Linked DNA regions of Homo sapiens: region 1 is reported to be linked to region 2. The links are microRNA targets in miRTarBase. Many come from high-throughput screens and were not tested one by one. Region 2 holds a microRNA gene; the other region holds the end of a gene's coding sequence.

Region 1 (4,399 bases), not on the chromosome of region 2:
GATTTAATCACCTCCTACTGGGTTCCTTCCACAACACATGGGAACTGTGGGAGTTACAATTGAAGATGAGATTTGGGTGGGGACACAGCCAAACCATATCAATTATCAATGTAGAAATTAATGGTTTTAGAAAATTTTACTATTGTGTTCTACAGTTACTTTTTATGAATAAAGTAGAGGATATAAGTAATTTTGCATTACATTTATTTAAAGGAACTCTTAAAATGCAAATATCATTACCATGCAGGCATTAGGTTAGCTTGTGGCCCACTCTGTGGCTTAAGAGCTGCTGTTAGTGTCCCATGACACTGGGATCCCAGACATAAAGAGTGTAACAATGGAACTAGGATTTTTTGCATGATATCCATTTTTTACCAGGTGAAAGAGCCTATAGGTGCTTGGTGCTGGTATTACACACCATTCTCGGGGAGATGAAGAAAATGCTTTCCTAAGATAAACTGTAGCATGGTAATAAATAGTCCTCCTTAAAATGACTAACAGCTCTTATGCTAAAGAAGTTTTGGCAGTCTCTAACTCAATATATCAATTTTTCAGAGCAAAAAGGTGTAATCTCTCTGCAACTAGACTGGGTTGCTAGTTTGCTGACACCAGAATTAGAATTTGAAAAACAGTAATTTCTGGTACTAAATATTACTTCAGAGTCACCTTCCAAATAATTACCCTCCAAATAATCTAAAATTCTTTCTTCCTTGTGCCGCCTGCAATATATACAGCACTATCTTCTCAATACTGAATTTCCTCATCTCACTCAGCCTTTTTACTATCAAATACAGTGGGCCTCTATAACAAACAGTTGATGAGTCATTCAATGTCTGCTGAAGAGAAATACAGAACAAATAAGTTTGTTCTTTTCCAGGCCAAAGCTTACTTGAGGATTGCTGTGGAAGTGGTAAGAAGATTGCCATCACCTTCAGAATGATTCCCCAAGTGTCCTGGAAATTTGCCTGGTACTGACATTAAGAGGACCTTTGGAAATCAGCAATGTGGTGATGGAACCTACAGAAATAATAGAAATCATAACTGTTTTATTTCTAAGGAAAGAATGTCTTCATATTTGACTTGCTAAGCTAAGGTTCACAAAACTTTGATGTATCAATGTTAACTGCTATATTTAGGAATTTTTTGAAAGCTGGTGTGTACCACCTGCAAAGAACTGCATTTTATTTTATTGAATTACCCCTTTAGAAATCACGAGTTTATGATGTTACAAGTCCATTTTGGGAGAGAACTGTACACTTTTTGCAGGACCACAGAATTAGTAATTTAAATGATATACTAAATTTGTGTATGGGCATAAGTATTACGCCTTCCCACCAGGCAATTTGGACTGTCTTTGAATCCTGTCTTTGGTACTGTCTTGGACATGTTCTTAATATGAACCTCTGCTTCTTCATCTGGATCACACTATACCCCAGACTTAATGAATTTCAGTCTCCAGGAGTGGAGCCTGAACATATGTATTTTTAGTAAGACCATGATGATGTTGATGATGATTCTGGTAATCATGGCAGTAAGAATAATAGCTAACATTTAACAAGTTAATTATAATTGTTCTTCCATTTGTGTGAGTGGGTACTATTATCTCCATTTTACAGATAAGTAATTTGAGATATAATTTGAAGGCACTCAACCTTGAGTGTCTTGCTGAGGGTTACTGTATCTAGCAGGTGATGGAGCTTGGATTTGAACTTGAGTAATTCGATATTAGATTCATCTTTTTGTACACCAATGTGCTTTTGTTAATTAAAAAAAGTCGGTGGTGGCTAGGCGTGGTGGCTCACGCCTGTAATCCCAGCACTTTGGGAGGTTGAGGTGGGTGGATCATGAGGTCAGGAGTTCAAGACCAGCCTGACCAACATGGTGAAACCCCGTCTCTACTAAAAATACAAAAATTAGCTGGGTGTGGTGGCATATGCCTGTAATCCCAGCTACTCGGGAGGCTGAGGCAGGAGAATCATTTCAACCCGGGAGGCTGAGGTTGCAGTGAGTGGAGATTGTACCACTGCACTCCAGCCTGGTCAATGGAGTGCGACTCCATCTCAAAAAAAAAAAAAAAAAAAAAAAAAGTCGGGGGAGATGCAATATTTAGCATTTCCTCAAACTTTTTTTGGCCATGAAATCCACCACCCCCCTCCTTTTTCAGAGCATTTCATGAAGTTCACATTTCAAATAATACATTTTGAAAAACATTTATCTTGTCTAATTGAAGCTCAAAGAGATAGAGTCAATGACTTTTCAAAGTCAGGTAGCAGATAGTTTTAAAGCTGCAAGTACTGATAAGTGTGAGCCATTAGTTAATTCGCATTTATAAAGAAGTGGTCTGTCACTTTTGGCAAATGTCTTGACATCTGTTGCTCTACAGTTGTCAACTAGAAAATTAGGCATAGAGTTTCACATTATTATAAGCATGTTTTCACACAAAAACATGTACATTGATGTTTATTGCAATTTTATGTGTAATAACCAAAAACAACCCAGATTTTCTTCATTGGGTAAATGATTAAACAAACCATAGTACATTCATACCGTGAGTGCTACTCAGCAATAAAAAAGAACAAACTATGGGTACAGGCAGCAACTTATAATTCCAGAGAATTATGCTGAATGAAAAAGGCCAATTTAAAAAGGTTTTGTACCAAAAGATTCCATTTATATAACGTTCTTGAAGTGACATAATTATAGAAATGGAGAACAGATTAGTGGTGGCTGTGTTAAGGAGGGGGTGAGGATGGGAGAGAATTGGGCGTGGCTGTGAGAAACATGAGGGATCCTTGTGATGATGGAAATGTTCTATATCACAGCTATCGATGTCAGTATCCCAGTTGTGATATTGTGCTATAGTTTTGCAAGATGTTACCACTGGGGGAAATTGGGTGAAGGGCACATGGAATCTCTGTATTATTTCAACTGCATGTAAATCTACAATTATCTCAAAATAAAAATAAAAGTTAAAAAAACACAAACTGCTATATCTGAACTGAAATTTACTGGACCAAATTATACTAATTAATATCATGAATAAAATTATTTGTGGACACACTGTAATCATATCACTCTGAGAAGGAAGTAATGACTTAAAGTTTCAGATATTCTTTGTGTATTTATTGTCTGTTGAGGAAGAAGAAAATATAGATGATCATTGAGCACTTGTGAATACAAAAAATACTTAAACCAAACTTAACTTTTTTCAAAAAAGAATGACTTAAAGTTGTATGTCACCATTTAATACATATCATAGGGAAATGGGAAAGGTGGTCTTTACTCATAAATACATGACCGAGAGAAGATCCACATATAAAATTCCCTGCCCTCTTCTCCTCCTTCTTTTGACTGTTGTCTGCAGATGCTTCAAGGAAGTCTACTGAAACAAATGGCGGTTGGAATATATATGCAGGTTTAGACATGGAGGAAGGAACAGTAGCTATAAAACAAGAACTAAGCTTATTCTAAAATTTTGCCACCAACTCCAAAGGTAGACTGAAGTACAGGTAGTTTGCCTGTTTGTTAAGGAGTGATATTTATTTTCCATTCTTCACATCTCAGTAGAGTGTAAATAAAAGACTGATATTTTGAAAAGGTGAACAAAATTGGCAAACCTTTAGCCAGGCTCATTAAGAAATGAGAGAAAGAAAGATGACATAAATCAACAAATCAGGAATGAAAAGGAGACATTATTACAGACATGAAAAGGACAATAAGAAAGATTACAAACAACTTTATGCCCATTAAATTGAAGACTTAGATGAAATAGACAAATGCTTTGAAAGAAACTACCAAAGCTCACTTATGGAATAGATATATTCCTTTAATATAATTTATGACTGAGTAGTCATAAATTACTTTTAAAAATATAATTTGTGTTAAGAACCAACAAAGAAAACTCTAGCCCCAGATGCCTTTACTGTCAAAATCTACCCAACATTGAATGAAGGAATAATACCAGTTCTACACAAACTTTACCAGAAAATAGAGGGGGCACTTTCCAACTCATTTTGTGAAGCCAGCATTACCCTAATATGCAAACCAAAGACAAAGACAATACAAGAAAAGAAGAATACAGACAAATGTTCCTCATAAACATAGACAGAAAATTCTTCAACAAATCTTACTTAATTGAATCCAGCATTATATAAAAGGATAATACATATGACTACAAGGTCATTTTCCTGGGAACACAAGGTTGGTTCAACATTTGAACATCAATCAATGTATGGCAGATTCAAGAAGAAACAGTAAAGCAAAACAGACTAAAGAAAAAAAGCATGTTTATTTGAATAGGTATAGACCAAGCATATAACAAAACTGAACATTCATTTGCAATAAGAATTAGCAAACTAGAAATAGAAAACAACTTTTTCAACCTAATAAAAGGCATCAA
Region 2 (4,399 bases):
TGTTAACCGCGCATCGCCAAACCCTCCAGGCCTGAGGTTTAACAATGCCCCACAGCAGGAGTTGTGCTGAGATATTAAGAAAGAGACAAAAGGGAAAGCTATGTCGAATGTGAGTTCAAATTGTTCAGCAGAAAACCTGGAAAAGTAATTAGCAGACTCTTGTGAGGAAAGAATTAATGCCCAACTGACCTCCCAAGACTCTGTAATATCTGAATTTCCACTGTTGGATATTCATTTCTTTGAATAGCCCTTCTGGGTTCCTCTCTGAAACTCTACATTTGAACTTTAAAGTTAAAGCATTAATTAATTAATTCACTCATTGAATAATTCTGTGTTCCTACTGTGGGTGAGATGCTAGGTCCTGGGACACAGCAGAGAATAAGGGAGATATGGATCCTGCCCTCAAAGCTTATGATCCAGTTTCTGGCTGTCAAGTGTAGCCGTGTGGTTTGTCCACTGCACGATAAGCCAAGTGGCGGAAGAAATCCAGAAGCTGGCTGGGTCCAAAGGGAGAACAGGGACATAGGATAAAGAGCCTGCATTTGAAGTTAGGGTGAGGAGAAGGGAAGCAGGAATGACGTGGGGGGCTCTAGTCTTCCTGTCTAAGTGCTGGGGACCCCCCCTGAGCAAGACCCTTCTCTCTTGGCCTTGGTCTTCTCTTCTTCCACATATGGGGAGCTGGAAGTGGACCAGTCTTGACTTCCTCTGTAGCTTTCACCTTCCTCATTGCCCCAACATCCCTGAGAGTGTGCCTTTGATCTCAAAAGAAGTCATCTTTCCCAGTTAGGAATTTTTAAAGCACAGAGTGTGCTAGCAGAAGACAGAGTGTTGTCCTTCAAGCCTGACCAAAGGAAAGTCTTTGCCATGAAGGGAGGACACAGGGAGCAAAGGATAGCCGGGAGTCTGGGGAGGTGAGAGGGGGAGACCTGCCTCCGTGGCTCTCCTGGGCTGTGCTGACCCGCAGGACCAGTGGCTTGGGTCTCCTGCATAATGAGCCCATGTCACTTCATGGGGGTTCTGGGCAGATGAATAGCGCTGCCCTGCCCCCTCCGCACTCCCTAATTGGAGAATGTCATGAAGTTGGTCTCCAGACAGAGATCATTAGGAAGAGACTAACAATTCTGATCCCTCATAACGGAGCTCTCATGGCCAATTAGCAGCAGAGGAAACTGAACTGTACCGTGGGTTGGGGAATGATCAATGCCGGCATTGTGCATTCTGGCAGGGTGGATCACTGGGTGGCTGGGGAGTGGAGGCAAAAGTAGTAGAAGCGGTGGCAATGGGGGCTATGGAGGAGCAATCTCTGGCTGGAGGCACAAGCCTCAGTCCTGTTATTTCCCAGGGAGACAGTCAGCCAGTTCTGCTTTAATAATGCACTGATAGAAGCTCCAGTTCCCTTCTTTAGTTTAGCAAACACCACTGCTACTGCAATCCAGAACCCAAACCAGGCTAAAATGTTTCCTTTTTCCGAAAGTCAGCACAAGTTCTGGGAGGAGTAAGCTGAGATTTCAGGTTCTAAAACAACCTAAATCTCAGCATGTCTTATGTTCTCAGTGTTCCGTCTCTCAAATGCCCAACGGCCCAGAGGAATTTTGGTTTATCAAACCTTGAAATACCCCAACATTCCTCACAGTACTCTTCCATCCTATGAACTAGCTCACACTGCCCCCCAAGACTACCCCAGCAATGTCACCACTGGAGAACACACAGGCTCTGGAGTCAGGCAGCCCTGGGTTACAATCTCACTTCAGCTGTGTGACCTTGGACCAGCCACATAACCTCTCTGGGCCTCAGTTTCCACACCTATAGAGCATGGATAACAACTACTATCTTCCCCAAGGACGAGAGACGGCTCATGTGCAATGCCCAGCACAGTGTGGGCCACCAGAAGGTGCTCAGTAACTGGAAGGGTGCCTTGTTTTATCAGCTCCCACAGCTGAGCCCTGTTCTCAAGGAATGAACCCAGGGGCCTGAGAGGATGTAGCCCCTTTTGGCAGTAGAGATATAAGAGTCCACTTCCGAGGCTTGCCTTTCTCAATTTGCAGGGCTACTGCCTTCTCCAGACCTCCCAAGCCCAGGAAACTGTTGGTAAGTGAAAGGGTGAGTGAGTGTGTGTTGCGGGGGTGGGAGTTCTACACAACACAGGCGGCTCTCCTCATGAGTGCTTCCAGCAATTAGTGCACGCAATGGCGGGGGGAAGGGCGGGAATGGCGGGGGCGATAGGGGTAAAAATGCAGATTCCTGGACTCCACACCCAGTGACTCTGTTCAGTAGTTCTGAGGCAGGGTCTAGGAATGTGCCTTTTTAACTAGGACCGTGGCTGAGTTAGGTTACAAAGCTGTGGTCTTAGATCACATGTTGAGAAGCCCTACAGGGTTGCAACTTCTGCCATCAGGACAGACAAGGCTTTGGTTCCTTCTCAGAGGTTTCATCTGGCCATGTGGCTCCAGAGAAGTGTGAGGGTTTGGGTTTCTCTGGGGAGGTGCACACAGGACCTTTGCTGTCTATAGTTGCGCCTTCTGGAAACATTGGGCAGGCACAAGGGGTGAGAGGTGGAGCTGGGGAGGCAGCTATTTCAAGAACTCTTCTGGAGTCCCTAATGGGAGAAAAATCACACTCTATACCCAGATATCAACTTGTGTGAGTTGGGAGGTCACAAGTAATGTGTGAATAACAATACCTCAGGTGTGCTGAGTTGGAAATGAGTTGTTTTATGATAATGAATTTCAAGTGGATTTAAATTTATCCCTGTAATAATATCATTGCCATACACTTACACGATGAAAAACTGTGTGTGTATAAAAGGGATTGCAGCCAATGTGTGGAACTGGCAGGACTCTTGATCTATTTTACCTGGGTATGCCAGACAGATGATGTAATCTGTCATACGCATCATGGCAGAAGTAGGGCCTGCTGCACCATCTGGGCTGTGATCTCTGACTCTCTGGCTTGCCCTAGCTGCCCTAAGCTGGTGCCTTACTAAGCTCACCTTGCTGCCACCTCCAACTGGACCATGGGTAGGGGCTGCCCAGGGCCTTGCTTGACATGCTTGTGGAGGGTACCCTGTCCAGAGCCAACAGGACACGAACAACAGAAGGGTCAGGTCCATTCTGGGTTCCAGCTATCCACTGTGAGGCATCTGCTAAGGACATCCTGGGCATGAGACCTGTGTGAACTGGCACCTGTGCTGTTCTCAGCATGGCAGCAGCTGCAGAGACCGAGGCCCTGAGCACCAAGTGGTCACACAGCACAAGTGACTGCCCAGGTGCAGAGGTGCTGCATATAGGGGCTCCTGTCCTCACTCTCTGCAGAAGCAACCTCGACTCCAGATATTGAGGGCTCTCTCATCCTGGATGCTCCTTGCTCTATGGCCACTAAACTTAACATGACTCTTCCAAAGGGTTTTTCTGTTAATTGTCAATGCCAGCCCAGGGCTGGCATGTAGTGGGCATGCAATGCTTCATTGTTAAGAGTAAACTACGACACACAGAGGCACCATTTCCGTTATGGTGTGAAATGCAAATGTCATCATCCTAAGCAGCTTCCCCAAGTCTCAGCTGTAGTTTCCAGAAATAAGTGACTGCCTTCTTATTCACATGCAGGAACTTCAGTTATTTCTTCCTGGCCCTAGTAGTGGGATCCTAAGGATAGCATAAATCAGGGGAAGAAACCCAACACTAAAGTTTCCATAGAGCATTACCCTGTGAAAGCCTCTTCTCCGGAGGGCCCTAACCTGGGTCCCAGATGTGGTTAAACTGATTTGCCCCTCGTTGGCTCACATCAGCAGAAATCTGCTCGTAGGACGCCCACAGCCCATGGAATCATGAATGCCGAGGAGCTGCCCCCTTCATCTTTAATTCAAATGAGCCTGAGGATGACGATGGCAATGGCACTGATGTGGGCTGAGCTCTTACCACATGCCAAGTTCTGCTTAAAGTGCCCTCTGGAAATGATCATCTCCACAACAATCTCACAAGGGAGGTAGAAATAATACAACCTATTTCTATTTTCTTGGTGGGAACACAGGCTGAATGAGGATTCTACCCCAGGACTGCCTGGTACCAGGTCTATGCTCGTGACTCCCCCACCCCAGGGATGAAGGGAAGAAACCACATAAGCTGGAACAACAGCCAAGCCAAGAGAAGATATCAGGAATGGGGGCTGACTTTAAGCTCACTCTCCCTCCAGAACCTGCCTTCCTCAAAAGTAGGCCTGTCCTCTTGATTGTGAATCTCCAGGCTCCTAAAGACTTATCAGGTCATTTGGATTCCCTGTACTATGGGTTTCTGGACTCTTGGATGCACCGTACTATGGGTTGCTGGACTCCCTGGGTTGTCTACAAGAAGAACAGAGCACGGTAAGTTTAGGAATCCATTCCCCGTGAGGCATCCACCTTCAG

The links. The annotated mature microRNA hsa-miR-1289 reads UGGAGUCCAGGAAUCUGCAUUUU and lies in region 2 at 2,229-2,251, opposite strand. An mRNA with a match to its seed (bases 2 to 7 or 8) in the 3' UTR can be bound and repressed. Matches are read on the target gene's strand: a 7mer-m8 pairs with bases 2 to 8, a 7mer-A1 pairs with bases 2 to 7 and ends in A, and an 8mer does both.
Region 1: the mRNA of NUBPL is a reported target of hsa-miR-1289. Seed matches in the 3' UTR shown: 7mer-A1 at 2,052-2,058.

The regions. Positions count from the first base shown.
Region 1 is chr14:31,858,241-31,862,639 of GRCh38, forward strand. It overlaps NUBPL (NUBP iron-sulfur cluster assembly factor, mitochondrial), which reads left to right. Exons shown (of 11, transcript NM_025152.3): 11 at 878-2,984. The coding sequence ends at 940. Among named protein-coding and RNA genes, the nearest start is that of LINC02313, 84 kb to the right of the region's middle.
Region 2 is chr5:133,425,387-133,429,785 of GRCh38, forward strand. It overlaps MIR1289-2 (microRNA 1289-2), which reads right to left and starts at 2,320; the gene lies at 2,210-2,320. The region is part of intron 3 of FSTL4 (follistatin like 4); the gene reads right to left.